Homo sapiens: one gene and its partners. The protein of the gene in region 2 interacts with the protein of the main gene of each other region in a biochemical or structural test. Each region holds a gene or a part of one and is shown on either strand. Other genes may lie near its edges.

What was found.
Region 1: the proteins of CCNT1 (region 2) and AHR form a complex in vitro, tested with the Homo sapiens proteins (one study listed by BioGRID).
Region 3: the proteins of CCNT1 (region 2) and PURA form a complex in vitro, tested with the Homo sapiens proteins (one study listed by BioGRID).

Annotation. Positions count from the first base shown.
Region 1 is NC_000007.14:17,341,582-17,349,487, forward strand, and holds the end of AHR (aryl hydrocarbon receptor), read left to right. Parts: intron 1-1,339; coding exon 1,340-1,483; 3' UTR 1,484-4,566; downstream 4,567-7,906. UniProt on the Homo sapiens protein: Ligand-activated transcription factor that enables cells to adapt to changing conditions by sensing compounds from the environment, diet, microbiome and cellular metabolism, and which plays important roles in development, immunity and cancer.
Region 2 is NC_000012.12:48,697,545-48,709,454, forward strand, and holds part of CCNT1 (cyclin-T1), read right to left. Parts: intron 8,353-11,910; coding exon 8,224-8,352; intron 3,530-8,223; coding exon 3,469-3,529; intron 2,297-3,468; coding exon 2,234-2,296; intron 640-2,233; coding exon 594-639; intron 1-593. UniProt on the Homo sapiens protein: Regulatory subunit of the cyclin-dependent kinase pair (CDK9/cyclin-T1) complex, also called positive transcription elongation factor B (P-TEFb), which facilitates the transition from abortive to productive elongation by phosphorylating the CTD (C-terminal domain) of the large subunit of RNA polymerase II (RNA Pol II).
Region 3 is NC_000005.10:140,104,802-140,117,108, reverse strand, and holds the start of PURA (transcriptional activator protein Pur-alpha), read right to left. Parts: upstream 3,001-12,307; 5' UTR 2,928-3,000; coding exon 1,959-2,927; 3' UTR 1-1,958. Other genes in the region: uncharacterized protein LOC124900193, read left to right, coding at 8,124-9,050. UniProt on the Homo sapiens protein: This is a probable transcription activator that specifically binds the purine-rich single strand of the PUR element located upstream of the MYC gene. May play a role in the initiation of DNA replication and in recombination.

The DNA of each region.
Region 1 (7,906 bases), on a different chromosome or scaffold from region 2:
TAGCTGTTCAGCACTTGAAATGTGGCTAGTCCAAATTGAGATGTGCTGTGTGAAGTACACATTGGATTTTTGGATTTTGAAGACTTGGCTTGAAAAAAGAATGTAAAATATCTCATCTTTTATTATTGATTTCATGTTGAAATGATTAGTTTTTTCAGTAGCCGCATTACAAAAGTAAAAAGAAACAGGTAAAATTAACTTTAGAAATGTATTTTATTTAATCTACTGTAGCCAAAAATTTAAGTTCTGTATGTGGCTCACATTATATTTCTATTGGATTACACTGCTGTGTACAGTATGTTTAAAGAGAATGGTGACATGAATTGTGTTATGAGTAATGAGAAAAAATCATTTTAAACTCACCATTATCTGGCCAGGTAATACTAACTTTTTATTTAAAGAATTTACAGTGTTGCCATTCATTGAAGATACAGGTTATATGATTTTTACTATAGATTTTATATATGTTTTGGAGGATCTGTGAAGTAATTAACATTTTGATTACTGAAGCCAGTTATGTAGGCTTTACAAAGGTAGATTTTATTTGAAGCAATTAAGGATATGATTTTAATCTGTTTTAAAGTTTCCAGAACGTCCACTAACTAAAATATAAAGGCTCTGTAATCTATAAAACTCTACAGAGCTATACATCTTCATGTCCTTCCTTTTTATTTTTCTTTTTTCTACTAGCAGTTATAGAAACCAGATTCATTGCAGTGTAAGAAAACAAGACAGAGCATTTTCTTTTGGTAACTTGATTCTGTAATTAGAACTATGCTTTCAGTAGTATTCATTAATTAAAAGTATATTATGAATAAGAAATCGGTTAAGAAAATCATACCTGTGGTGTAATATTTTAGGAATATTTAGAAACATTTAGAAAATCAGAAGCTGCCTTTTTTGGAAAAGTTTTGCATTCCAGTGTAAGATTCCTGAATATAATCAATTCATTGATACCTATAACTTCAAACCTGGTCAAAGCAAACCTACTTATGATAGAGAATATTTAACTGTAATTTGTGACTTGTGCTGTTTGACCCATCAATTCCTACCTGACCCAAAGGCAATCTGAAATGAGACAGCTGCATCACTCATCTGTACCATGTTCAAAATTTCCTGTCAAATTAATGGAAAAACAGGTTATAAATGCAACTAATACATAATATGTCCTCAGTATGTCTTCACTGTGTGAAAGATTTAAAATTTAGCAACAGTAAAGGAACTTGAAGTTTACAACTCTCAGGGGTAAGATTTTAAAAATACATGTTAATGTTATTTACTGGCTTAAGATACTTGGAAGATCTATTCCAATAAGTTGCATCACCATTTTTGTTTTCAGTTTCAGAATGGAGTTTTAAATGAAACATATCCAGCTGAATTAAATAACATAAATAACACTCAGACTACCACACATCTTCAGCCACTTCATCATCCGTCAGAAGCCAGACCTTTTCCTGATTTGACATCCAGTGGATTCCTGTAATTCCAAGCCCAATTTTGACCCTGGTTTTTGGATTAAATTAGTTTGTGAAGGATTATGGAAAAATAAAACTGTCACTGTTGGACGTCAGCAAGTTCACATGGAGGCATTGATGCATGCTATTCACAATTATTCCAAACCAAATTTTAATTTTTGCTTTTAGAAAAGGGAGTTTAAAAATGGTATCAAAATTACATATACTACAGTCAAGATAGAAAGGGTGCTGCCACGGAGTGGTGAGGTACCGTCTACATTTCACATTATTCTGGGCACCACAAAATATACAAAACTTTATCAGGGAAACTAAGATTCTTTTAAATTAGAAAATATTCTCTATTTGAATTATTTCTGTCACAGTAAAAATAAAATACTTTGAGTTTTGAGCTACTGGATTCTTATTAGTTCCCCAAATACAAAGTTAGAGAACTAAACTAGTTTTTCCTATCATGTTAACCTCTGCTTTTATCTCAGATGTTAAAATAAATGGTTTGGTGCTTTTTATAAAAAGATAATCTCAGTGCTTTCCTCCTTCACTGTTTCATCTAAGTGCCTCACATTTTTTTCTACCTATAACACTCTAGGATGTATATTTTATATAAAGTATTCTTTTTCTTTTTTAAATTAATATCTTTCTGCACACAAATATTATTTGTGTTTCCTAAATCCAACCATTTTCATTAATTCAGGCATATTTTAACTCCACTGCTTACCTACTTTCTTCAGGTAAAGGGCAAATAATGATCGAAAAAATAATTATTTATTACATAATTTAGTTGTTTCTAGACTATAAATGTTGCTATGTGCCTTATGTTGAAAAAATTTAAAAGTAAAATGTCTTTCCAAATTATTTCTTAATTATTATAAAAATATTAAGACAATAGCACTTAAATTCCTCAACAGTGTTTTCAGAAGAAATAAATATACCACTCTTTACCTTTATTGATATCTCCATGATGATAGTTGAATGTTGCAATGTGAAAAATCTGCTGTTAACTGCAACCTTGTTTATTAAATTGCAAGAAGCTTTATTTCTAGCTTTTTAATTAAGCAAAGCACCCATTTCAATGTGTATAAATTGTCTTTAAAAACTGTTTTAGACCTATAATCCTTGATAATATATTGTGTTGACTTTATAAATTTCGCTTCTTAGAACAGTGGAAACTATGTGTTTTTCTCATATTTGAGGAGTGTTAAGATTGCAGATAGCAAGGTTTGGTGCAAAGTATTGTAATGAGTGAATTGAATGGTGCATTGTATAGATATAATGAACAAAATTATTTGTAAGATATTTGCAGTTTTTCATTTTAAAAAGTCCATACCTTATATATGCACTTAATTTGTTGGGGCTTTACATACTTTATCAATGTGTCTTTCTAAGAAATCAAGTAATGAATCCAACTGCTTAAAGTTGGTATTAATAAAAAGACAACCACATAGTTCGTTTACCTTCAAACTTTAGGTTTTTTTAATGATATACTGATCTTCATTACCAATAGGCAAATTAATCACCCTACCAACTTTACTGTCCTAACATGGTTTAAAAGAAAAAATGACACCATCTTTTATTCTTTTTTTTTTTTTTTTTTGAGAGAGAGTCTTACTCTGCCGCCCAAACTGGAGTGCAGTGGCACAATCTTGGCTCACTGCAACCTCTACCTCCTGGGTTCAAGTGATTCTCTTGCCTCAGCCTCCCGAGTTGCTGGGATTACAGGCATGTGCCACCATGCCCAGCTAATTTTTGTATTTTTAGTAGAAACGGGTTTCACCATGTTGGCCAGACTGGTCTCAAACTCCTGACCTCAGGTGAGCCTCCCACCTTGGCCTCCCAAAGTGCTGGGATTACAGGCGTGAGCCACTGCATTCAGCTCTTCTTTTCTTTAGATATGAGAGCTGAAGAGCTTAGACACATTTTGCATGTATTATTTGAAAATCTGATGGAATCCCAAACTGAGATGTATTAAAATACAATTTTTGGCCGGGTGCAGTGGCTCACGCCTGTAATCCCAGCACTTGGGGAGGGCGAGGAGGGTGGATCACGAGGTCAAGAGATGGAGACCATCCTGACCAACATGGTGAAACCCTGTCTCTACTAAAAATACAGAAATTAGCTGGGCATGGTGGCGTGAGCCTGTAGTCCTAGCTACTCAGGAGGCTGAGGCAGGAGAATAGCCTGAACCTGGGAATCGGAGGTTGCAGAGCCAAGATCGCCCCACTGCACTCCAGCCTGGCAATAGACCGAGACTCCGTCTCCAAAAAAAAAAAAAATACAATTTTTATTTCTTTTACTTTTTTTAGTAAGTTAATGTATATAAAAATGGCTTCGGACAAAATATCTCTGAGTTCTGTGTATTTTCAGTCAAAACTTTAAACCTGTAGAATCAATTTAAGTGTTGGAAAAAATTTGTCTGAAACATTTCATAATTTGTTTCCAGCATGAGGTATCTAAGGATTTAGACCAGAGGTCTAGATTAATACTCTATTTTTACATTTAAACCTTTTATTATAAGTCTTACATAAACCATTTTTGTTACTCTCTTCCACATGTTACTGGATAAATTGTTTAGTGGAAAATAGGCTTTTTAATCATGAATATGATGACAATCAGTTATACAGTTATAAAATTAAAAGTTTGAAAAGCAATATTGTATATTTTTATCTATATAAAATAACTAAAATGTATCTAAGAATAATAAAATCACGTTAAACCAAATACACGTTTGTCTGTATTGTTAAGTGCCAAACAAAGGATACTTAGTGCACTGCTACATTGTGGGATTTATTTCTAGATGATGTGCACATCTAAGGATATGGATGTGTCTAATTTAGTCTTTTCCTGTACCAGGTTTTTCTTACAATACCTGAAGACTTACCAGTATTCTAGTGTATTATGAAGCTTTCAACATTACTATGCACAAACTAGTGTTTTTCGATGTTACTAAATTTTAGGTAAATGCTTTCATGGCTTTTTTCTTCAAAATGTTACTGCTTACATATATCATGCATAGATTTTTGCTTAAAGTATGATTTATAATATCCTCATTATCAAAGTTGTATACAATAATATATAATAAAATAACAAATATGAATAATATGTTTTAATGTAAATTCTTTCTGGTCCACGTAAAGGAAATTATTTATTCTGTAGTATTATAACTATGTTAGATGAGGGCAATCTACAATACTTAGGGATATGTTAAGTCAGTAATTCATAAACTTCTTATACAATTTTGCCCCCCAATGTCTGACCTTTATCTGGATATAAAAAACACTCTCAGTAGCTTCATAAATTAAAATGCTTCTGAAATGAACTTTTTTAAAGCCCTGTGTTATCAGTGTAGTAGTGTGTCTTAGATTAAAATCCAAAATCCTATTTTAATATTTTAAGAATATTTCTGAAGAAATTCGAAATAACCCTTGTTAGCTGTATTTTGTGCTTAGTTTAGAAAAACCATTGCCCAAACTTAGTATTTCTGTTTAATAAGTATAAATGATACAGAAGCCTTTGGCCTTAAATTCATAACTGTTGAACATTCATGGAAAACCCTGCAATTAGAATTGATTGAAGAAGAATTCCTGAGAAAATGTTTTCATTCTTGTGACAGTTATTTTTCTATTAGTTTTATATTTGTTCTTTACAATTAGGCATTTTTCTCAACTAGCATATCATAAGTTAGCATCATACTTAATTCTGAACATTTTAGACTAATCCTGAGTCTTTAAGAATTACATAAAATATTTAGTTTTAACTATTTGATCTGAAAAAAATCAAGTAAAAATCCTGATAACCTGAGTGCATCTCTGCTTGCGCTTAGGTGATTTCTGTCACCATGAATGACTCTAGCTTGTCCAATTTCACCAGCTCTACCAAACACCGACCCAGGGATGTTGGCCACTGACAGGGCTGGATGACATCTCTCATTTCTTTCACTGTCTGCAGATGACCTTGCTTCCGTTTTTACTAATAAAATCAAGGATATCATCCTAAGTTTGTACCTTCACCTCAGCAATTCCTCTATCCTTGGACTTACCTCCAGTATGTGAGGAGGAGAGTTTCCTGAACTCCAGGGTTAGCCCCCGTCCTCTCTCGTTCTCATGCACACAGCTTCGACACCTGCTTTCTGAGAGGCTCTCCTTCTCTGTAGGATTTCCTGTGAATAGGTCCTCCTCCATCCTGGAAAAAAATTACTTGAACCTGCACTTTCTTCTCTATTAAATTACTTCTTTACCTTCTTCCTTTGTAACAACAGTTTTGATCTCCTGAGATCTGGTTTTGTTTTCCATCCTTCCATTATATTGCAGTGTTGCGGTTCACTAAACTTCTTACCATAGGCTCATTTTCTATGGCCCTGCAACCAAACTGATTACACTTTCAATGAACTTTTTTCTTCCCTTCCATGACATTAGTTGTCCTGTAAGCTCCTATTATCCCTTTTCTTTCCTTTGTTAACCACTCTTTCCTCCTCCCACCTGGCAGCAGGCTTAGTTTTGACCATTTGTGGCTCTTTCTGTACATACTGTCTAAGAAGAAGTGATTCAATGCCTTACCTCTGATTGACATTTGTGAAGCAATTCTTTCCCTGAGAGAGCAGCATAGCATAGCCAAACTAAACACACAGACTCTGGAGTCAGACTACTAGGTATAAATCCTGGCTTTGCCACAAATAAGATGTCATTGAGAAGGTTTCTTACTTTCTCTTAGCCTAAGATGCCTTTTCTGTAAACTAAGGCTAACAGTACCTGCCTCACTGGATTGCTGGAGGATTCAGTGATTTATATAAAATCACTTAGCTGCCAGTAGCCAAAACTGGAATAATTTGAGCAACTAAATAAGTGATGATAGCATTAGATTACAGCACAAAGAATAAAGTAAATATCCATGAATCCATACTAATATAAATAAAATGGTTGAAAAATAAATGGGGGAGAAGGAGCACATCTTTCCTATAGAAGAATCCCAAATAATATTGGTAGCTACTATGCCCTCTGATGCATGAGCTTAGTTCTCCTCCCCTGGAAGGATGAGTTAGACTTAATGACTTGCTTTCAAGGAATAGAGTACAGACAGAGAAGAAAATAACTTTACATTGTTGAAATCTGGCAAGCACTACTTTAACCAAGTAATCAAGGTTAACATCACCAGTGAAAAGTCATGTTGATATAACATGTATTATCTGATATGATACTTTGAGAAGTGTACATCTCAAAGCTCCCTGATTTTCTTAAAAACACATAGTCTAATTATGACAAAACATCAAACGCAAATTCAGGGACATTCCACAAAATTTCTGAGAGGATTTTTTAAAGTGTCACTGTCACAGAAAGAGACTGAATAATTATCACAGAGCAGAGGAGGCTAAGGAGGCATGATGACTGAACTTAATGTGATATCTCCGATTGCATCCTTCATAGAAAAAGGGCATTACTGAGAATCTGCAGAACTCTAAGTCTAGTTAATAGTACCACATCATTGTTAATTTTTTGGTTTTGACCAATGTACCATGGCTATACTACGTTAGAGGTACCTGGCTGAAGAGAGTAAAGGAACTCTATATCCTTTTGACTTTTCTGTAAATCTAAAATTATTCCACAGTAGATTTTACTTTTTAATAAAAGTACAGTTTTTATTGCCACATAGCAAGTATCTTTATGTCTCTCATTACTATTTTCCTGTATCTTCACAACCTCCTCTTAGTTGGAGGTAAAGCTATACATTGACATCAGTCCCCATTAACTACTGATTTGACGAATATCTTTTTTTTTTTAATTTAAGTTCTGGGGTACATGTACAGAATGTGCAGGTTTGTTACATAGGTATACACGTGCCATGGTGGTGTGCTGCGCCCATCAACCCGTGATCTACATTAGATATTTCTCCTAATGGTATCCCTCCCCTAGCCCCCCACTGGTGTGTGATGTTCCCCTCCCTGTGTCCATGTGTTCTCATTGTTCAACTCCCACTTATGAGTGAGAACATGCGGTGTTTAGTTTTCTGTTCTTGTGTTAGTCTGCTGAGAATGATGGTTTCCAGCTTCATCCATGTCCCTGCAAAGGACAGGAACTCATCCTTTTTTATGGCTGCATAGTATTCCATGCTGCCAGTTTTCCCAACACCATTTATTAAGTAGGGAATCCTTTCCCCATTGCTTATTTTTGTCAGGTTTGTCAAAGATTGGATGGTTGTAGATGTGTGGTGTTACTTCTGAGGCCTCTGTTCTGTTCCATTGGTGTATATATCTGTTTTGGTACCAGTACCATGCTGTTTTGGTGACTGTAGCCTTGTAGTATACCACATTCTCTTTATCCAGTCTGTCATTGATGGGCATTTGGGTTGGTTCCAAGTCTTTGCTATTGTGAACAGTGCTGCAGTAAACATACGTGTTCATATGTCTTTATAGTAGAATGATTTATAATCCTTTGGGTATATAC
Region 2 (11,910 bases):
ATATATATATATATGCCTGTAATCCCAGCACTTTGGGAGGCTGAGGTGGGCAGATCACGAGGTCAGGAGATCGAGACCATCCTGGTTAACAAGGTAAAACCCCATCTCTACTAAAAACACAAAAATTAGCTGGGCGTGGTGGCGGGTACCTGTAGTCCTAGCTACTCGGGAGGCTGAGGCAGGAGAATGGTGTAAACCTGGAAGGTGGAGCTTGCAGTGAGCTGATATTGTGCCACTGCACTCCAGCCTGGGCAACAGAGCAAGACTCTGTCTCAAAAAATAATAATAATAATTTAAAAAAAAAAAAAAAAATATATATATATATATATATATACACATATAATTATTGCAGAATACTCCAAATTAGATTTTCAGTCACTATCATGCAGAACTGAGTAGGTTATCAAAAAAATCAGTACTAAATAATTACATAACCTTAGAAAATTAAAAAGTACCATGGAAATTTAAAGTACAACATGAAAACTGTGCAGAAAAATCAACATTCACCAGAGAATTATCTATAGCACACTGTATCAAACTCAAGTAAAGTCCTATACCAAAAATCGAAGAGAAAAAAAAATTAAAATATAAACCTGTTGGTTGCCATGAAGTAAGAAGTCTGTGCTAAGTCCTTGCTTGCTAAAGAAAAAAAAAAAAAGTCAGGGGTGGGGGAGGAAAAAAGTTATTAGTTCCATTCATTCTCAACAAATATTTAGTAAGCATTTAATATTTGCAAGGTACTGTGAATATAGTGGCAAATGAGACACACATGGTCCCTGTAAACCTGACGTTTACATTCTGCCAAAGTAGACAGATCAATGATTTTTAATTTTAACATTAATAACTATGCTGCTTCCAGATCTAGGTACTCAAGCTTTATTCTGCACACCACATATCTGAGGTACTTGTTTAAATGCAATTCTTGGACCTGCTCCCTAAAATTTAATTAAATGTTTGGAGAAGGGTGCAAGCATTTTTTAACAAGTAACCCAGAGATTCTGATGTAAGGATTCACTGAGAATCACTAAACTACAGGATGAACTAAGATGATCTAGAAGCAAGATCAGAATCTAGAAGACTTTGACATATTTGGGAAAAGTGACTTTTGCTGTTAAGAAAGTTTTTAATTAAGGCTGGGCACGGTGGCTCACGCCTGTAATCCCAGCACTTTGGGACGCCGAGGTGGGCGGATCACCTGAGGTCCAGAGTTCAAGACCAGCCTGACCAACATGGAGAAACCCCGTCTCTACTAAAAATAAAAAATTAGCTGGGGTGGTGGCGCATGCCTGTAATCCCAGCTACTCGGAAGACTGAGGCAGGAGAATCGCTTGAACCCGGGAGGCGGAGGTTGTGGTGAGCTGAGATCGTGCTACTGCACTCCACCCTGGGCAACAAGAGCAAAACTCCGTCTCAAAAAAAAAAAAAAGTTTTTAATTAAGTAGCCCTAATTAAGATTTAATTAATTAATCCCCAAATCATCAAATAATGTAATATATTACAATGAAAAAATTTAACTTCTTCCAAAACAAACTGTTCTGGGTGACAAAGCAAATTTTTATCTTCCTCAGGACATAGTCTTCTCAATATTAACATACACCCATCTCTAGTCTTATCCTTGTGCAATATAACATTTTAATACTTTCAAATATAAAGAACTCAGGAAAATTTGGGAATTTTCACAGGAAACACATATTAGTAAAATGTAAAATAAGACCAATTATCAGTTTGGCCTAAAAATCATAAAAGGCACTTAAAGGCACAATAGTGTTCAGATATTCTTGATACTAAACTAAATAAGAGAGTTTCATTCAATTATACCTAATATTGTTAAATTAGAATTAAAAAGAAAAGTTCTGCCAAGGGATTGTATATCATGGAAAGTCCAAATAAATTCTGTATGATCCTCTAGGTGGCCTTTAATCAACCCCAGAATTAAAATAAGATCACCCACTCCTCACAACTTTCATAAAATTTCTGTTAAATAACTTCACAAACTGCCCAACTTTGACAAACATTCTCAAGAGGTTAGTTCTCTTTAACTAGAGATCATCTAAAAATATTACTTGTAAGAACCCAACAGAAAAACATCAAGTCAGAACAACTCATTTTGATTTAAGCCAAGTAGGCCTTTAAATTTAGCCAAAGCAGAACTATTATGTATTGTCCACCACAAACCACAACCTCTAAATGGGAAAACAGCTTGAGATAGTCTTCATAAGCTGGGATTCCTTACCTCGAACAAGTTGAGTGCACTTTACTACATGAGTATGTGGGTGATCAATTGTTAGTTCAAAGCCTTAAAAGAAAAAGTAATGGATTAAAAAACTATTAAGAAGTTTACATTTTACAAATTATTGTAAAAGGATAACTGATTGTAAATTACACCTTACTGGTTTCCACACTAAAATATTAATAGAAATTTATTCCACCAGAAAAACATCATTGTCCCATGAAATATAATTTGAAGATATTTTAAGAAAAAAGTTAACTAGAGGCTGGGCGCGGTGGATCAAGCCTGTAATCCCAGCACTTTGGGAGGCCGAGGCGAGCGGATCACAAGGTCAGGAGATCAAGACCATCCTGGCTAACACGGTGAAACCCTATCTCTACTAAAAATACAAAAATTTAGCTGGGCGTGGTGGCGGGCGCCTGTAGTCCCAGCTACTCTGGAGGCTGAGGCAGGAGAATGGCGTGCACCCAGGAGGCGGAGGTTGCAATGAGCCAAGATTGTGCCACTGCACTCCAGCCTGGGCGACAAAGCAAGACTCCGTCTCAAAAAAAAAAAAAAAAGAAAAAGAAAAAAGTTAACTAGAATAAATTGAGAGATAAACTTTGAAGAACTCATCATATATATATATGTACAAAAAAAATTGTGTCTACGCCAATAACTTTGACGTACAACTCATGAAATCTTACCCTACCTAGAAGAGAAAAATGATAGCCCAAAAGAACCAGGAAAAAAAAAATCTGTATTTTCATATTTTCTAAACTTCTAAAGGCAGCCTGTGTGATGAAAATAACAGATAATAACACAATATCATCAGAGTTGCCCATGCAACCACTAAAGCTTAAGTTCCCCCACTTTCACTCTGCTGTTCTAAACACTAGTTACCAATTTTAAAAACAAATGCTGTTACAGGCCATAACAATCCACGGAAGGAAAAACATTCTTTAGATAGTTTTTATAATTTTTGGGGGTAAAAATCACCAAAACTTAAAAAGCAAATAACCCTAGAATGAAAAAAATAATAACCCACTGGCTGCTGTTTCAAAGGTCAGCTGTACTACCTGCATTCACTCTATGGAACAGGTCAAAGCTAAACTCAGGTCTACAACCTCTATCATCTGGAAACAGAGGGACACTACAAAAACTTTCCCAAGAAATATTCTTCCTATATAGCAAATTTTTAGAATCAAATCATTTTATTGCATAATTTAAAAAAATGTTTCAAAGGAAAATAAACTTACCTAAAGTCTGCAAAATTATGCTTTCTAAAATGACCAGATCTTGAACTTGTTGCAAATAAGCCTAAAAGTGAGAAGACAGAAATTATTCCCTACAAAGGCACAATATATAAAGTATAAACAATTCTAACAATCCCTTCCAGGGAAACCAAAACAATAAAAGGCATGAGTGGAGTTAGGAGGTAGAGTTAAGAACTGAAATACAATCTTTTTTTTTTTTTTTTTTTTTTTTTTTAGACAGAGTCTCCCTCTGTCACCCAGGCTGGAGTGCAGTGGTGTGATCTCGACTCACTGCAACCTCCACCTCCCTGGTTCAAGCAATTCCCCTGCCTCAGCCTCCCAAGTAGCTAAGATTCCAGGCGCGCAACACCACGCCCGGCTAATTTTTTTGTGAAATACAATCTTTATCCCTTATGCCCATTCAGTACACATTTTCTTTAAAAAATAAATAAATAAGTAGTATGCTGAGAGGTAACAGTTTATATATGGCTACAGAAAAAGCACCATATATTTGGTTCATTTTCAGGTTAATATTTAAGTTTTATGGTTCATGTGATTTAGAGAAAAGAAAATTAAAAGTATGTATTTTTTGCTTTTCTTTTTTCTTTTTTTTTTGAGTTGGAGTTTCGCTCTTGTTGCCCAGGCTGGAGTGCAATGGCACAATCTCGGCTCACCACAACCTCTGCCTCCCGGTTCAAACAATTCTCCTGCCTCAGCCTCCCGAGTAGCTGGGATTACAGGCATGCACCACCACACCCAGCTAATTTTGTATTTTTAGTAGAGACGAGGTTTCTCCATGTTGGTCAGGCTGGTCTCAAACCCCCAACCTCAGATGATCCGCCCACCTCGGCCTCCCAAAGTGCTGGGATTACAGGCGTGAGCCACCGCACCCGGCCTTTTTTTTTGAGAGGGAGTCTCGCTCTGCTGCTCAGGCTGGAGTGCAGTGGCGCGACCTCGCCTCACTGCAACCTCTGCCTCCCAGGTTCAAGCGATTCTCCTGCCTCAGCCTCCCGAGTAGGTGGGATTACAGGAGCCCACCACCACGCCCGGCTAGTTTTTGTATATTTAGTAGAGACGGGGTTTCACCATATTGGCAAAGCTGGTCTTGAACCCCTGACCTCAGGTGATCCACCCGCCTCAGCCTCCCAAATTGCTAGGATTACAGGCATGAGCCACCGCGCCTGGCCATAAAGTATATATTTTTCAACATCACCAAAATACATTTGCAGAACCTTCCTACAGTACTGTAAGCATTTAATACCAAACATTTGGCTCCTATTAGAACTTCCCCTTTGGGGCCATGTTAGGTTTCTAAAAAGTAACAGAAGAGTTCAAAGGAAAAGGTAATAAGAAAATTCACTCAGATTTGTGCCAGCCAAAGCTATAGCCACTAGCCACATGTAGCCATTCATCACTTGAAATGTAGCTAAATTGAAACGTGCTATAACCATAAAATACACTGGATTTTTTAGACAGTTAAAAAATAAAGAATGGGCCGGGTGCGGTGGCTCACGCCAGTAATCCCAGCACTTAGGGAGGCCAAAGCAGGTGTATCACGAGGTCAGGAGTTCAAGATCAGCCTGGCCAATATGGTGAAACCCTGTCTCTATTAAAAATACTAAAAAATTAGCTGGGTGTGATGGTGGGCGTGAACCTTGGCTTGTTCCATAGAGTGAATGCAGGTAGTAATCCCAGCTATTCAGGAGGCTGAGGCAGAGAATTTCTTGAACCTGGGAGGTGGAGGTTGCAGTGAGCTGAGATCGCACCACGGCACTCCGGCCTGGGTGACAGAGCGAGACTCCATCTCAAAAAAAGAAAAAAAAAATGTAGCTAGGCATGGTTGCTCACACCTGGAATTCTAACACTTTGGGAGGCCAGTATGGGAGGATTCTTTGAAGGCCAAGAGTTCAAGACCAGCCTGGGTAACATGGTAAGACCCCTATCTCTACAAAAAAATAAAAATTAACTGGGAGTGGTGGCACGCAGCTATAGTCCTAGCAACTTGGGAGGCTGAGGTGAAATGATCACCTGCTCTTTATGAGAATCTAATGCCTGATGATCTGTCACTGTCTCCCATCACCCGTAGATGGGACCATCTAGTTGCAGGAAAAGAAGCTCAGGGTGGCCGGGTGCAGTGGCTCACACCTGTAATCCCAGCACTTTGGGAGGCCAAGGCGGGCGGATCACAAGGTCAAGAGATCGAGACCATCCTGGCTACAATCTTGCCACTGCACTCTATCCTGGGCAACAAAACGAGATTCTGTCTCAAAAAAAACAAAGCTGGCTGGACATGGTGGCTCACGCCTATAATCCCAGCACTTTGGGAGGCTGAGGCAGGTGGATAACCTCAGGTCAGGAGTTCGAGACCAGCCTGACCAACATGGAGAAACCCCGTTTCAACTAAAAATACAAAATTAGCCGGGTGTAGTGGCACATGCCTGTAATCCCAGCTACTCGGGAGGCTGAGGCAGGCAAATCGCTTGAACCCAGGAGGGGGAGGTTGCGGTTGGCTGAGATTGCACCATTGCACTCAATCCTGGGCAACAAGAGCAAAACTCCAACTCGAAAAAAAAGTTAAAAAAAAAAAAAATAGTGAAACTACTCATTTAAGGATCCATAATAAAAATGTATAATAATATTTTTCAGCCAGGTGCAGTGGCTCACGCCTGTAATCCCAGCACTTGGGAGGCCAAGGTGGGCGAATTACTTGAGCTCAGGAGGTCGAGAGCAGCCTGGGCAACATGGTGAAACCCCATCTCTACAAAAACTAGCTGGGCATGGTGGCGCACACCTATAGTCCCAGCTACTCGGGATGCTGAGGTCAGGGGGATCACTGAGCCCGGAAGGTCAAGGCCGCGGTGAGCCATGATCACACTACTGGACTCCAGCCAGGGCAACAGAATGAGACCCTGTCTCCAAAAAAAAAAAAAAGAATATTTTTCATAACATTTATAGTGATTTTAAAAGCTAGAAATTATCTAGACTTCTTCATGGAGAATTGTTAAAAATACATACATTCACATATATATCATTAAATACTAGCCAGACATTTTTAAAAAGTAGAGAATCCATCAGATGGGAAAATATTTGGGATATAGTAAGCAAATGAAAACAAACCAGAGACAAAATACATGCACACATAGCTATCTATAGAAAAGAAGCCACAAATAACAGTGGTTCATTAGTATACCTGTGCTTCAGTTGTCTATATAACAGGGGGTCCATGGCCTGTTATGAACTAGGCCACACAGCAGGAGTTGAGCAGCAGGTACGAGTGAGTGAAGCTTCATCTGTATTTATAGCCTCTCCCCACCATACATATTGCCACCTGAGCACTGCCTCTTGTCTGATCAGCAGTGGCATTAGATTCTTATAGGAGCACTTGAACCCTGTGGTGAACTGCCCATGCAAGGGATCTAATTTGCTGCTCTTTATGAGAATCTAATGCCTGATGATCTGTCACTGTCTCCCATCACCCCCAGATGGGACCATCTAGTTGCAGGAAAAGCACCTCAAGGTGGCCGGGCACAGTGGCTCATGCCTGTAATCCCACCACTGTGGGAGGCCAAGGCGGGCAGATCACAAGGTCAAGAGATCGAGACCATTCTGGCTAACATGGTGAAACCCTGTCTCTGCTAAAAATACAAAAATTAGCTGTGTGTGGTGGTGCACACCTGTAGTCCCAGCTACTTAGGAGGCTGAGGCAGGAGAATCGCTTGAAACCGGCAGGTGGAGGTTGCAGTGAGCCGAGATTGCGCCACTGCACTCCAGCCTGGCGACAAGAGCAAGATTCCGTCTCAAAAAAAAAGAGATGCTCAGGGCTCCCACTGATTCTACGTTATGGTGAGTTACGTAATTATTTCATTATGTATAACAATGTAACAATAATAGAAATAAAGTGAACAATAAATGTAATGTGCTTGAATCATCCCAAAACCATCTCCAACCCCACCCCCTGTCCATGTAAAAACTGTCTCCCATGAAACCAGTCCCAGGTGCCAAAAAAGGTCTGGGACCATTGGTCTAGAATATATCTGAGAGATATTTTATTCTTGAATTTTTCTGTATTTTCAAATTTTACTGCAACAAATACAAAACTTTCGCCATAAAATTTATGTGTTTTGTTTTTCAGACAGAGTCCTGGCACTGTTGCCTGCAGTGGTGTGATCATGGCTCACTGCAGCCTCAACATCCCATGCTCAAGCAACCCTCCCACCTCAGTCTCCCAAGTAGCTGGGACTAAAGATGTGAGCCAGCATGCCCAGTTGTTTTTTGTTGTTGTTGTTGTTGTTGTTTTTCTTTTTTTGTAGAAATGGGGTCTCACTTTGTTGCCAGAGCTTGTCTCGAACTGGACTCAAGCAATTCTCCTGCCTCAGCCTCCCAAAGTGCTGGGATTACAGGCATGAGCCACCACATCTGGCTTTTTTTTTTCTTTTTTTTAAATATAGAGACAGGGTCTTGCTATGTTGTCCAGGTTGGTCTTAAACTTCTGGCCTAAAGTGATTCTCCCACCTTACCCTCCCAAAGTGCTAGGATTACAGGTATGGTGAGCCACCATACCTGGCCTGATTTTCTTACTGTTAAGAAAAACACAAACACTAAAATATTCTTTTAACAACACCAATCTAAACTTCAATAAATCGAAGTTATAAAATTAAGTTGCATTGAAATACATAAAGATCCAGGCATGCTTGGGAGTAGGGAAAAAAAAAGAAAGGAAAAAAATTAAGAAAAACAGATGTGTAATTAATCTCCTACCTCACTTCTAGTATCAGGAAGGGATTCCTGAGGATGGAGACAAGTATGTGCTACCTTGATGACATGTTCCAATTTTTTGGGCTGCTCCTCCACTTTAGCTGCTAGAAACAAGGCTGCTGGAGCCACAGACTGAATGGAGAGAAAATAAATCATATTTATTATCAATTTATTCATTCATAGAGTAAGGTAGATCTAAAGAGGAGCTAAGTCTCAAATCAAGTTATTTGCTTGCCTCAACTTTGTCACCTCTTTACCCTTTCCCGCCCCCCCGCTTCTACCATCTTCCCCTCTCCTACCCATTAATCCATCTCCACTTCCAAATACCAATTCTTTGACAAACTGTCATTAAAAGCTGTCTATGGGAGAAGCTACTAGATGTAAGCAGACAGTTTTCTATTTAAAGTGAGATTCTTTATTAAGTTTGTATCAAATCACTCAATACATTTTTTAAGGAGTAAACTGAAATGTCCAGAATACGCAAATCCATATAGAGAAAAAGTTTAGTGGTTGCCAGGAGCTGCGGGGAGAGGAGTATAGGAATAACTGCTAATAGGTGAGGAGTTTTCTGGGGTGATGTAAATGTTCTGCAATTAGACTGTGCTGATGGTTGCACAATTTTGCGCATATACTAAAAACCAGTGAACTATATAATTTAAACAAACGAATTTCATTGTACGTGAATTATATCTCAATTACTTATACATATCGAACCTTTCAAAAATACAAAGCATGGCATTATATGCAAGACATTATTTATAGAAAGCATTAAGAGGGAAAAATTGAAGTCAATATAAAAGTAGATAACAAACTTTATAAAAGATTAAAGCAATATGACATAAATGTAGCCTGGTGATCTTGGAAACTTCAGGAAATAGAACTTTTCTTGAATATTAAGAACATTTCAGTGACTCAAAGATAGTAATGCTAAGAGCTGTATTTCACCAGGAGTCAAAGAAATACATAAATAATTTTACAGAATTTAAATATATATTTCATTTTACTGACTAGAACTGATATTCTAATACTTATTTGTAACCCTGATGTCACCTATGCTATACTTTTCTAGAGTAAGTTTTTCTCCACAAATTCAACTCATAGTATTGATTTCAGACAAGACCATAGGAGACAAAAATAATTTAAAACAAAATTTTTTTAGGCCAGACACAGTGGTTCAAGCCTATAATCTCAGCACTTTGGGAAGCAGAGGCGGGGGATCACTTGAGCCCAGGAGTCCGAGACCAGCCTGGGCAACATAGTGAGAGAGACTCCATCTCCATACACATACGGAAAAAACTGTTTTAAGTAAACACAGTGATTCTTTTCCTTCACATTTGTTTCAGATGAATATGAAGCATACTACATATATATTCCTCAGACTTTAGGATAAACAAAACAGGATCAGAGAAAAATGGATATGAACAAAGGTATGGTGATCTAGGCGTAAAGCACATTTTCAATACTAAACTGAGTAGTTAAATACATTAGATAATCGGATGTGGAACACTAGATTTTTTTTCTTTCTTTTTTTTTTTTTTTTGAGACAGCATCTCACTCTGTCACCCAGCTGCAGTGCAGTGGCGTCAAAATCACAGTTCCACTCAACCTCCTGGGCTCAGGAGATATTCCCATCTCAGCCTTCGAAGTAGCTGGGATCACAGGCACACGCCACCACACCCAGTTAATTTATTTTTATTTTTAATAGAGATGGGGTCTCCCTACATTGTCCAGGCTGCTCAAACTCCTGGGCTCAAGTAATTCTGTCTCTGCCTCCCAAAGTCCTAGGATTACAGGTGTGAGTCACCTCACCCAGCCAAGATTCTTAACAAGAGTGACACTAAAGATTTTGAAAAATATCGTTTAAGAAATGTTTATGATAAATGTATATAACTATTATGTACCCATGATAATTAATAAAAATAAATTTTTAAAACAAAGTAATATTTAGAAGGAGTAATCTGATGGTAGGTAAAACTAGGAGAAAAGGATGGGATACATTAAAAGTTAATTCAGGCTGGGTGTTGTGGCTCACGCCTGTAATCCCAGCACTTTGGGAGGCCGAGGTAGCGGATCACTTGAAGTCAGGAATTCAAGACCAGCCCGGCCAACATGGTGAAACCCCGTCTCTACTAAAAACACAAAAATTAGCCGGGCGTGGTGGCACACACCACCACTCAGGAGTCTTGTAGTAGGGTAGTCCCACCTACTCGGGAGAATTGCCTGAACCCAGAAGGCAGGGGTTGAAGTGAGCCAAGATCATGCCACTGTACTCCAGCCTGGGCAACAGAGCCATACTGTCTCAAAAAATAAAATAAAAGTTAACTTAAATAATAATTTAGGCATTAGGACATAAAGTTTAGAGCACTTTGGGAGGCCAAAGCAGGAGAATCACTTGAGCCCAAAGTTCAAGATCAGCCTGCGTAACACAATGAGACCCTGTCTCTGTTTTTTAAAAATTATTTTAAAATATAGAAAAAAGAATTTTAAAAAGTTTAGAGTAGGCCGGGCGTGGTGGCTCACGCCTGTAATCCCAGCACTTTGGGAGGCCAAGGCAGGCAGATCACCTGAGGTCAGGAGTTCAAGAACAGCCTGGACAACGTGGTAAAACTCCATATCTACTAAAAATACAAAAATTAGCCAGGAGTGGTGGCACACGCCTTTGGTCCCAGCTACTTGGGAGGCTGAGGCAGGAGAATCGCTTGAACCCAGGAGGTGGGGGTTGCAGTGAGCCAAGATCACGCCATTGCACTCCAACCTGGGCCACAGAGCGAGACTCTGTCTCAAAAAAAGAAAAAAAAAAAAGTTTAGACACTAGCAGTAGAAATAAAGGAAAAAAGAAACACAGGCATCACTTTGTAAAACTAATAGGGCTGCACTAAATATATGTACATGTACTTGCATACAAAGAAAAAATTCTAATGGGATATACTCTAAAATGTTAACAGGATTATCTCTTTATTTCCTGTCCGTCCTCTTCCAATTTTTTGATAATTTAAAAAGTACATATTTATAAGGAGAGGGAAAAAATGGTAACATTATAAAATTAGCAAGACTTTATAGGCTGGGTGCAGACTCTTGCCTATAATCCTAGCACTTTGGGAGGCCAAGGCAGGAGGATCCCTTGAGCTCAAGCCTGAGCAACATAGCAAGACCTCATCTCTACAAAAAATCAAAAGGAAAATTCACTGGGCGTGGTGGCACTGTAGTCTTGGTAAGGTGGAAGGATCACTTGAGCCCAGGACATGGAGGCTGCAGTGAGCTATGATTGTACCACTGCACTCCAGCCTAGCCTAGGTGACAGAGTAAAAACCTATCTTGGGGTTGGGGGGGACTATAACTAACTGAACAAAGGGGAAAAGGACAAGTCAAAGACTAAGGTTTTAAGCCTATTAGAAACTAAAAGTATGGCATAAACTAATAAAACCAAAATAAAACTAAACTAAATTATGGCACCACTGCACTCCTGGGCAACAGAGGGGACTCCGTTTCAAAAACAAAGAACTAGATAAATGTTTCTTGAGGTAATTAATATTTGTTGTTTGTTAGGGTGGAAAGAAAAGGACCCTCACCTACAGTGCTGGAAACAATGTATAATCTTTCAGTAGGGCAAACTGACACTACAAAAATTTTTATACATTGTATACTCTGGGCACAGCAATTCCACCTATAGGAACTTGTATTAAAATGCTT
Region 3 (12,307 bases), on a different chromosome or scaffold from region 2:
TCAACACATACAGTAGATCTCAAAAACGAAGACAACACACTCAACCAGGGAGCATAAAAATATCAAATCAAAACCCAAAGGACCAGCAGAAAAAAATCCTTCAAAAAGACAACTGTTTGCCTTCCTAGGCCAATGCTTTACAATATAAGAAGCACTGATACCTTCCCGCTCCTACAGGTGGTGTCTTATACATACAGCAGTTAGATCTATATGGCTGGATTTGCCAAGAAACAATTCCATCCCCAGAACTCTCTGTCAGACAAGACCCTTTTTTTTTTTTTTTTTTTTTACCAAAATACTTTCTACAGAATTCCAAACCAAAATGTACTGTTTAAGGCATCTTTTTTATAACATTTTCTCTTCACTCAAAGATGATAGTCATGCAGCAGTTTAATGATAAAAATATATTAATATTTTACTATACAGCAGCAAGAAGTTAGTTGTCAATTAAAAGCACACAAACATCTTTAAAGGAAAACCTGTAAAAGACTATCGTTACAAACAATTTCAGTTTGGAGGACACCAGCTTGGTAAAGTGCTCTCCTAAACTTTGCATTTTCATACCCTACACCTTGAATATATGAGTTATAGAACATACTTTTGATAGAAGGCTTGTACACTTGGGGAACACAAATACACTTAGCATATAATGTAGCCAGTAATAACTAGCACCACAGCTACATGGAAATCCTTTACATACACCAACTTGGCTTTCACTTTTAAAACAAAACTCAGAATCCATGGCTCAGTAGGATAACTATAATTGTGTTGCTCTGCTTTTTAACAGGTCTACATAAGTTAATAGCACTAGCAAAAATCAAAGAATAGCTTCAGACCTCTTACAAGTTTAGGAGACAGTGCTAGTGACCACAAATAGACTCACTACCTGATGTCCAAGTACAGGTTCACTGGAAATTGCTGCACGTTAGTTTTTTAAAATCTTTCTACACATAATAAAAAAAATATATTATGAACGATACAAGTACATCTCATATACACAATAATGACAAAACGCCTACTCAGTCAAAGCAAACAGATGCAGAAAAATATTATGGGAGATCTCCTTTTTCTTTCTTTTTCCTTTTACTATTTGAATAACTTTGGTTCCAACCATAAAAATCACAACTTAGCAAATTTCATTTAAATGCCTTTTTTAATAATTTCTTCATGTTCACAGAAGTTTCACTGACCATTTTTATAAGTTTAAGGTCCAGATGCAATGCATATTGTATAAAAGAGAGCACTTATTGTTTACCTTGCATGAATTAAACCTACGTACCTTTAACTCTACAAACTTCTGCATAACATTTAGACAAAGCTCAGACACACAGCATGCCTAGCCCTCATATATATACACATCTCTAATCACAGGTATATAGGGTGTCAAATATACTATAATAACCTCCATGTAAGGTTTGAAATTTGGTAACAAAATGAGAAAAACTAAAAATATTATTTTACGTGTTCTAAAATATCTCTTTTTTGTGCTAAAGTCAAATGTTAGCTCAACATGAAAAGGACTTTTATATAATTCAGCAATATTATAATCTTGACCATTTTGCAAACACTTTTTAATAATAATAGCTTAAACGTGTACAAAAGTTCTTGGTTAATTAGGGAAATAAACACTCAGTTCTTTATATTTTTTAATCAAGTAGGAAACACAGTTCATATAATGTTATTACTTTTTGTATTTTTTTTGTTTTTAGCAGCTGCTTACTGTTTTATATGGTGGATAAAGTGGACAACATCCAGCGATGGGTGGCAAGTCAAGAAGAGAAACTGTCAGTTGGTGGAGGTTCTGTGGGTGGTGCTCCCTTGGAGTTAACAGGTTTTTTTTTTTTTTTAACTTTTTAACTTTTTATTTTCTCTCTTTCTTTACAGTATATTTTCTGTGTGTGTGGCTGTGTGTGTGTGTGTATGCATGTGTGTGTGTGTGGGGGTTTCATTCAGTTTGATCAATCTTCTTCCCCTTCTTCCTCACCCTGCAGTAGCAGGGTGGCAGCGGCGGTCTCCTCCTGCTGCTGCTGTTGCTGCTGGTGAAGCTGCTCACAGGCAGCCCGCTTCTCCCTCTGCTTCTCTTGAATCTTCTTCATCTCCTCCGAGTACTTGCAGAAGGTGTGTCCGAACTTGGCCCACACCTTGTAGGGCACGGTGATGGAGTTGCGATAGGTGGGCTTCACCTCGCTCACTCGCATAAACACGCCGTACTTGTTGGAGCCCACATCGAAGAAGAAGCGCTTGTTGTCCACAGTCAAGGAGGTGCCCTCGGGCAGCTCGGCCGGCTCCTCCTCCACTCCGTAGTCGTCGATGAGCTTGGCCAGAGCGTCACGGAACTCGATGAGCCCCTGCGCGGGCAGCGCAATGGTCTGGCCCTGCGTGGAGCCCAGGCCAGGCCCCCGGTTGACCGTCTGGCGGATGCGCAGGAAGCGGCCGCGCTGGTTCTCCTTGAGATCCATGTAGTACTTGCGGTTCTCGCGCACCAGGAACTCGCTTTTGAGCGCCCGGCGCGGCTCGTCCTGCGCCTGGGCCAGGTCCGGCGGCTGGCTGGGGCCCAGCTGCGCGTAGTGCTCGATGAAGTCGCCCAGGTAGTCGCGGAACTCCACGGCCACTGACATGGAGAGAGTAAGGCGGCTCTTGTTGCCGCCCGCGCCCACCTCGGCGATCTTCAGGAAGCGGCCCTTGGCGTTCTGCTTCACGTCCAGGTAGAAGCGCTTGTTCTGGATGTCCACCCGCTTGGAGGCCAGCTCCTGCGTCTCGTGCTGCAGCCCCCCTGGGGCCCCGCCGCCGCCGCCGCCACTGCCGCCGCCGCCCCCGCCGCCACCACCGCCCCCGCCGGAGCCTGAGCCCGAGCCGGGGTGCCCCAGGGAGCCGCCCGAACCCAGCGCCGCACCACCCTGCTCGCTGCCGCTGTCTCGGTCCGCCATGATGCTGCGCTCCGCTGCCGCGCCGCCGCCGCCTGCCGCTCCGCCCGCCGCCTCAGTCGCCTCAGCCGCCGCTGCTTTCCCTCCCCGGCTCCGCCTGCTGCCGCCGCAACCCCCACAGCCAGTCAGCCACTCTCGCGAGATCTGCGGGAGAGACGAGACAGACGAGACCCGGTAACAGGGCACTGACTCCCCAGTACAGTAGCAGGGCGCCCTACTGTACGCGCCCACCCGCCCGCCGGCACGTGACCTGCGCCCCCTCCCCGCTGCCAGCCCCCCGTCCGCCCGCCCGCCAGGCGGCGCCCACCCACCGGCCCTCACCCTACAACCCTGGCTGGGTGGGGGAGAGGGAGCAGGACGCGCAGCGTCGCAGCTGCTGCTGCCGCTGCTGCCGCCACCACTGCTACCACCACCACCACCACCACCACCACCGTGGCTGTCGCTGTTGGGCAGACCCTAGGCGGCCTCGGCCTGGGGAGTTAGGGGACTAGGGGTGAGAAGGAGTCTGCCATACTAAGCACAGAGAGTGGGCCTAAGCTCTGCTTTCCAGTGACCCCCCAAAGAGGATGTAGGAGGAGGGGCCTGCGCGGCGCAGCAGAGCCCCCTGCAAAGAGGGGACACCGAGTCACGGCCACCCCCTCTCATGCGGGCCTCAGCAAGACCCAAACCCAAACCTAGACAGGCCCACCCGCCACCCGGCTGGGTTGTCTCCTACCGCAGAGCCTTGGCCGCTGAGGCAGGCAAAGAAGAGAGGTGGTGCGGTGGTAACCCTTAGCTGCAGAGGGGGCTGCTGGGGATGAGGTCGGGGCGCCGGCAGCAGTGGCGTGGAGCAGCAGACACCTAGCCTGTCCCTCCCCTCTCTCTCCCGCCGCTCCCCCTCCCCGCACACACGGCAGTGGCTCTGGCCTCAGATGATCCCGCTCCCCCCTCCCCCCAACCGCAGCCCCGCACAGTCGGGCGGGCGGGCGCACTCACCGATGGGGGGAGCCGAGCAGAGGACAGTAGACGCACCAGGGCTAGGGTGCCCGCAGTGACTGTTCCCGTCGACTCTGCCCTTCCCCACATGCAACAATCAAAAAGAAACTCCACACTCACCCAAAAACCTGCAGCCAGTCCCCCTTGGGACCACGACTGACTGCCTGCCCGCCCGCCTCCCCCTCCTCCTTCTGAGATTTGGGGAAGGGGGGCACCCTGCTCAGGGCTGAGCCCAGCCTGAGTTGCTGGCCAGCTCTGCGGATGAACCAGGCCCTGTGAGCATTCAGACCCTAGCCCACTCTTCTTCCTTTCTGGAAGGACCCAGAATGGAGGAGAAAACCAAGCAGGCTTTCGGAAATTCATGAGCTAAAAATGTCAGGAATTTCCTGGGAAACGCAGTTCCTTACGGGATTCATTAAAGCAGGTTCGCTTGCCCCTTTTACTCTTCCCAGAAACTTGTGTCAAGGAGAGATCCCACTCCCAAAAGTAACATATTAAGTGGTCGCTGGTTTTTATGCAGACAGCTAAGTTGCTGACCATTAATTAACCAGTGAGTCTTTGGACGGTGATAGCTAAAAAGGATCTTCTCTGGTATTAGGGGCTCAGGAGTAGAGGAGCTCAGAGATACCTGATTTCTCTTTTACTAGACCTGACGTATAACCTAGGGCTTATTTCCAGATAGGTATTGAGTGCTTGTACTCTCTCACTGCAGTCTGCAGCCCTGGCACTCTGGGGAAAGCTAAGGCCTATCTCCAGGGGACCCCCCCCTGCCAATGCGCCCACTCTCTCCCCCATCACCTTCTACAGGCAGCTGAGAGACACAGATCACACAGCTCTGCCCCTGGCTTTCTCAAGCACAGATCGTTGCCTCTATCCTGAGAAAAGTATACCTATTCCATTTGTGGGTTCTATTCCCATTGAGCATCTCCCGCTTCCCCCAAAAGTAAGGAGACTTGCCTCCCTCACTCTTAGCCCGAGGGACAACTGGGAATATGATTGCCCAGCTTCCTAGAAAAGAGTGGACTAACGATCAAGAAACCAAGAGCAGGCTAGGGAATAAGCCTTGCTGATTCCTGAACCCTCAAAGCCCCCCTTACCATATCTCTTCACCTCCTGAACAAACTTGCCTGCTAGGTATTCACAGCTTCCTTTTTCTCTTAGAAAGAGCCCCATTCTACTCAGCATTAGCTACTTCAGCCCTGGGCTGAAGTTTGCGACTTCCTACTGAAAAGAAACAAGAAGCACCTGGCCACCAAGGAGCAAACAGGCGCTGTCCTGTGCACCCGTCTCAGAACCACCCACCTATGTCCAGTGGTCCCTGAAATGGCTCTCTGAAGGGAAGGCTCCACACCAAGAGATAAAAACCCAGACTTTGGGCCCCATAAAGAACTTCCCCTTATTTGGGAGGCAACCTCTAGTACCCTGTAGTACTCTTTCCGTGTTGATTTTTTCTGCACTCCTTCCCCTGTCCCAAAGTCTATTGAGAAGGGGACACAGGAACTTTTGAAGCACTTTGAACTGCACAGAAATACACGTGTGAAGAAGCAGTAACTCCTCCAGGCTCGAACAGTAGCAATCAGGACTCTGGATAGACCCCAGCGCCTCCAGGGACAAAAAGGCTCAGTAGCAGGCTCTCCACAGAGAATGGAGTGGGACATTATGTTTCACTTGTAAACTGAGGCTAAGATCTGGTACAATCCGATCTAGAAGGGCTGCTGCTCTTCCTCAAGAGTTTACCTTGCGTCAAACCAAGCCCCTGCTCCCTAATGAAAACTCAAGGCAGCAACAAGGCCAATGAGAATACGATGAGGGCCCCACCCACCCCCCCTGCCAGTCCCTGCCTTTCTTCCGTGCTGATTGCTGCCCCCAGGACAGAAGACTAAGACTCGAAACTGCCCCGCCTTCCTATCCCAACTTCCCGCCTTCGTATCCCAACTTCCCGCCTTCCTATCCCGACTTGCAGTCTAAATTTTCTTGCCCTCCGTCCTAGACGTCTATATACAGGGATTCCGAATGATTTGAGTTTGGAAGTGCCCTGTTTTTCTGAAAAAGTGACTGCCACCAAGAACTGACTTCTTAGTTACCCAGCGCAGAGGCAACTGATGAAGTTTCCAGACAGAACACAAGTTGAATCTCATTTGTACACTTAAACTGGGAATTTTAAGGTCAAATCAGCAAATTACTGGGACCTAGATCTCTCCACATAAATATGTACTTGTTTTATGCTATTCATTATATATGTATAAAACTTTTGCCCTTATTTGCCAGCTTCTCTACTTTATATGTGTATCTAAAAAGCAAACAAGATTAACAATGCCTTTCCAAAATAATTCAATGATAAATAGGATTTTTAGCATATTTTCACTACTGAAACGAGAGTTAATTTCAGAATAAGCCTTTAAGTGTGGGCTTTTTCTCAGACTAAGGAGGTGAAAGGCAGCTTTCTTTGGGCTATAGTGTACAGTAGCCTTAAAAGGCAATCTGGGAGAAATGAATATAAACTTCCAGAAGTCTTAAAACAAAAAGTTTAAACTTTAAATAAAACTTCACAGTTATATTTGCATTGTAACACTGAAAAGTCATTAGAAAATAAGTGGATTTTAAGACTTCTAACCATTTGTTAATAATCTAAACAATATACTAACTTGGTGAATGAAGTCTGTTCTAGTATCCAGCTGTTTGAATTTGTTAATGTAAAACAAATAGTTGTAAAACTAAATGTATAATTTCATTAGAATGTAGGAAAGACAAAGGGAAAACGAAATATACAGCAAATTAATATGCAGCAAAAATCCATGTTAATGAAAAACATCAAAAAGTAAACATTTCCTTTCTCCTCACAATATGCTTACAAAGACATAATGTCTCTAGATTTCTTGAGCCCTTTTATTATTAATACAACAGACACATTTTAAAGAGAATAGAGACTGCTTTATTTTTAATCCCACTGTCTCTATGTATTTAACAAACTCTTACCAACAAAAAATTGTGCGCAAAGAAATACACATTAGGCAGAACAAAAAAGAAAAAAGCTTTAATTTTCTTCAGCCTGACTACAGGTGATTCTGAAATAATCTAATTCAGTTTTGGTTTTATAAAGTAAAAATCAACACACATTTATAAAATAGACTTGGAAAGAGGTTGTCTACCTCTGGGTAGTAAACCCTTCTGATTATAGAGTTCCTAATAGAAACAATATGTTGATTAATATTTTACAAAATCACAAATTTCCAAAATAAAGAACATTAGAGCTTGTGTTTTCAAGTGATACTTAGATTAAATACCAGTCTTAAACCAGACAACTATCTTCAATACCCAAATCATTAAAACTAACTGGGATGTTGTACTGTAAATGTTCAAAGTGGAGGAATTAGCCATTTCTTCTCATGACTGTCTACCAAAAAAATTGAGAAACTCTCAAATAAATCTTAACATTTAACAACAACAATGACTAATAGTAACAGCATTTCCCAGATCGTTCTTTAAAAGCGTATTCCTTTTCCATAGCTCACTTAATCTTGAAAATCATGCCTCTTCAATGCTATTTTAATGTTTCGGATTAAAGATATGAAGTAAACATTTAATATATGAAGAGAACAATCCACTTGATAAAAATCCTCGCATTTCCAAAATGTTTTCATTTTAAGCATTTGCAGAAGTTAAATAAATGTAGCAGACATTCTAAATTCGATAAAAAATTCAGAGAACCCGACATTTTATGTACCCCAAAGGTCCAAACAGAACCGATGTAAATGTCAATAGCTGTCTCCCTTCCGGCTGATACTTAAATGGTTTTACTAGTACTCAAAGCAATGAAATCAGCAACTCTCTCTCCACACTCTAGTCAACACTCCAATTTCCAAAGCCGCAATTCGCAAACGTCAGTTGGGCGGGGGCGGTGGGGGATCTTGAAGTAATCCAAAAATTTCCTTTCCCCTTTGACAGTCCACCAAAAGATGTCAAACCAAATCCAGCCTATTGTAAAGCTCTGGGACCTCCCTTCCAAGGACACCGAACACAAGCTTAGACACCGCTGCGAAAAGCTGTCCAAAAGCGCCTGGCCGGACAGAAATGTAAGGAGCCCAGGCCAAAACGAATTAGAACCCCCAACAGAGGGTCCCGCAGACACCGCGGAAAAGAAGGTGGCATTTATTCCGGGGTAGACAGCTACGAACCAGTTACCCCAGCCAGTCTCTGGGGGCTCTCCAACCCAAGTTCAGGTTTATGGCAGATATATTGGTTGGGTGCCTTCCCCTACAAACATCACAGCCCGCCTCCGGGGCCCACCGCCGCTCACAGAGAAGACCCCTCAGCTTCACATCCGTTCCTTTTGCCCTCGGACAAAGGCAGAGGAGCTGTGGAGCTGACCCAGCGCTGTGGGGCAGTAAAAATGCCTTGTTCGGGCCACCCATCTTTGGGCCCGGCTTCATCTGCGATGTCAGCACCAAAGGTTTTTTTTTTTTTTTTCCTGGTTTTGTTTTGTTTTTACAACGCATCCTGGGCGGGTGTATGCATTTGGTGGTAGTGGGGTGGGGGGAACCGAACAGAGGAGGGGTTGGCAGTGAAGCCTGGGTTATAGAACTCTCCTTCCTCTCCCTCCTTCCAGGGTTGCCGTGCAGGGAGTGTCAGCCACGTCTAGCGCACAGTCCCAGGCCCCAGGGCGAAGGCGGCCAGGGGAAATGGGGCTCAGGGATTGCTAAGCAAACGCATCACTGGTGGTCTCCAGCGCCTGCGGAGGTAGGATCGCCTCTTTTCTTAAGGGGCGTGTTATTTTGTTCTCTTTTGAAAGTAGGAGGGGGTTCATTCGTTTCTCGCTGCGGGGGGTGGGAGAGAACGTTGCTGCACCGCCTGGGTCTCCAAGAGGGAGGGTGCGGGGATGTCTGCAATGGTACTATAATTATTCCTGGGCTGAGAGAGCAAGTAAAGGGGACGGGGCGAGCGTCACCTGGAGCTGTGGCAGTGGCAGCAGGGAAGGTCGCGAGGGGCTTACCCGGGCGGGCGGGCGCTGTCCTGCCGCAGGTGAGGGAGGGCGCAGGCTGGCGGGAGGGAGGGCGCGCGCGAGACAGGCGCGAGGAAGGGGGGAGGGGAGGAGGGCGCGCGCGCGCACACCTGTCCTGGACAGCGGCGCTAGCCGAGCTGCGCCTCACTTAGGCTCTGCGGGCTGAGGAGGAAGGAGGGCGGGCTGGCGGGCGGGGGCGGGACGCCGAGGGGAGGAGGAGGAGGCGGCTCGGATGGCTGGCTCGGCTCTCGCTCGCTCTCCCTCCCATGGGCAAGTCCGGCTCACACCCTGCTTCTCCCGCTCACTCACAGCCCCCTTGGCTCTCCCTCCTCCTCCTCCTTCCCCTGCGGGATCCGCTCGCCGCCGCCGCCGCCGCCGCAGACGGCAAGTCGTGGCAGCCAGACGTCGGCGCGTAACCCGGCGCTCCGTGCGTGACTCCAGGCGACGTCAGCGCGCGCTCCGCGTTCCCCACCCCTCCTCCCAACTCCGTGGCTCGCGCCCTTCGCTCTCGCGTCCCTCCGTTTTAGCTGCCGCCGCGGCGGCCGCCGAGCGCGCTCTTTCCGCCCCCTTCTCGCGCGTGAGCGCGCCCTATCGGCTCCTGGCGCGTCAACATTCCGCGGGCCAGGCCTTGGGGCGCGTCTGAGGAGGGGGATGTCTGTGGCCTCTCCGCCCACACTTCCTCCACCCACCGCCCACAGCGCCCCAGAAGGACCTATTACTCGTTTGGCTTCTGAAGGCCGAAGCCAGGCTCTGGCGGGGATAGAACCCTGAAGGGCCTGCGCCAGCTCCAACTTAGGGCCCTGTGCGTCGTTGCGACTTCTGCTACCACCCTATCACGCGGCACCCCCGCCCCAACTCCGCCCGGGTCTCTGAAGAGGCAATAGGCCTTTCATCTCCGGGGAAAGTCTCACCTTGGCCCTCAGACACCCGCCAAGAGGGGTCGGAAGGACAGAATTAGCATAGAGAAGAGTGGCTAGAGCACTTTTCAGGCTCTGGCCCCAGGAATCCTTGACAGGAAGCGTGGGGTTGCTGCCCAGCCTCCCACGCAGTGTAATATGTTGAAGCCGGGCCCCTTTGAGGGAATGCGACTTCCTTGGGCCGAGGGGGAAAGGGTAAAAGTTAATTTTCATAAAATGCTATGCAAGGGCTAAATGTGAAATTATAAAATGTCCTTTAAGACAGTCTTCTTGAAATCGTATCAAGTTTGACAAGATTTTTGGTGCACGGTAACGCTTTTGCTCGCTTTCTACGCTGTCACGTCTCCATCCTGCAACACTGAATACGTAGATGGAACGTGGATCAGCTAATAACTGCAGCAAAATAAAAACTGCATTTATCATCTTTATCATTATTTAAATAGACCTCCGAGAAGTCAAACTGTGATTTAGGAAAACTTAATCATTGCCTCAACCTATTTAACTATTTTGTTTTGAAGTTACTTTGCAAATATACCACAAAATCCCTCTTTGTTAGGCAGTGGTAGACTTTTAAACTCACTTGTTAGAGAATCTTTCCCAGAAGCATATCTAGTTGAGCCTGCGAGGCAAGTAGGACTAAGGTATAATTACTCCCATTTTACAGATGAAAATTTAGTTATCAAAATGTAAGTCAGTTGTTCAGCATTGTGAGGAGTCTATCACTGATAAAGGGAAAACTCTAAGGTCTATTATTGCCTGCTTTATTCACTAAACCAGAAATCTCTCAATTGTTTTTTTCCAAGTATCTTTTGCTGCCTCTTACGTATTGTAGGCAGTGCCTGATGGCTGAGAAGAATCGCAGAGGACTAGAAAAGGTTTGAGTCTGAAATTATCTGGCACAGAGGATTAAAGCTCAGAAATAAGTGATTGCGAAACAGTTCAACTTCCCTGTTAATGACAACAACAACAGCAACACGCTTATTAATTCCTAGCTGGAGGTGAGAAAATGAGACTGGCTTAAGGGTGATGGGTCATTTCCTTTGAATTGCTTCTTTATATTCACCTCATCTTTAGGTGGCAGCACTACTATATAAATATCCTTCGAAGTACAGTCTTCTGCATCTTAATATCCTAAAGGATATTCTGTCCTAAATGTTTCCAACTGTATTGTGGAGATTAGAAACTGGTGATTTAATGATCTAAAATCATAGCTGAGAATTAGAAAACTTGGAGGTTCTAGAGGAGGAAAAACAAAGGCTATCAGACACATTAATAAAATACATGGAGCTACGGAGGGAAAACATTAGAAAGTTTCAAGAAAAAAGTTTTTTAGGTGTATGAGGAGCAAGTAGCATCTCTTTAAACCTTGTCTTTTATTGAAACATAGGACAAGATAACCTTCCAAAGCAAACCATCCTTTCTCAGTACTGCATATTTATCAAGCATTTACAGGTTCGAAGTTGCTAGTTATATAGTTGCTTGTACTCAACTGTAATTTAAAAATTCCGATGCAGTTTTTCCTAATTAACAGCATCAAGCTTATGAAGATTTCCAAGACTTTATTGTTGACCCTTGTTGAAGAGAACTCTACTTGGCTTCTTTCCTGGCTTTCCTAAATTGTTCACATACAAGATAAACTACCGTCATTCAGACTTACAGAAGTGAGAAGACAAGCTGAACCAAATGTAAAATGGTAGCAATTTACAGGTAATTCTGTATCTTAATTTCTCCCACATTTTTAGGGTAAAAAATTGTGATATATGGGGGTTATTTGGATCAAGTGTTTTCTAAGTAGAACTTTGTCATAATTAATTTTATGTATTTATAGTAGTTCTCCCTGTGTCCCTTTATCCAAGCAACACAATACAATTGAATTTATATGCATTTCAAAATAGACTCCATTTGATTTACCGTGTAAATACAACCACCAAGGAATATAGAGGTATGACAATCAGGAGTGAGAAATAAAAGCATTTCTGGATAGAGGATGAAGTGTTAATAGTCTTTCTTTATGGCGTCTTCCATCTATCTCAAGTCAAACTTGGAGGAGGAGTCTCAAGCAAATTGGTAGTACTCAAACTCTGCAGTATTATGTTAAGATTTTTAAGCTGTCTGGTGCCAACAAATCATGCAGCCTGGGGGCCTTTGCTCCAAACTTCTGCCAACTCCATTTTGGCAGTAAAATGTTCTGTTGAACAAAGTTTGCACGTGTTTAGGGTGTGAAGTGGTTCCTCAGGCATTTATCTAGTTTTATTCCAGTTTAGGGACTTGAAGACAAGGGTCAGAAGTGTGAGACTTGTAGACTTGATATGTGCACTGAAACATACTATATAGTAGCAATCTTGAATTTTTGGTTTAAGCAAGGACAGCTTTTTCTTTGTTGATACTGGAGTTATTAAAGTGAATCCTTTAGTTTACTCCTTAAAGGCTAACATGGTATCGAATTGGTTTTCATAAGCAGGTAAGCAGAACCCTCTCTGTTGAGGGTATAA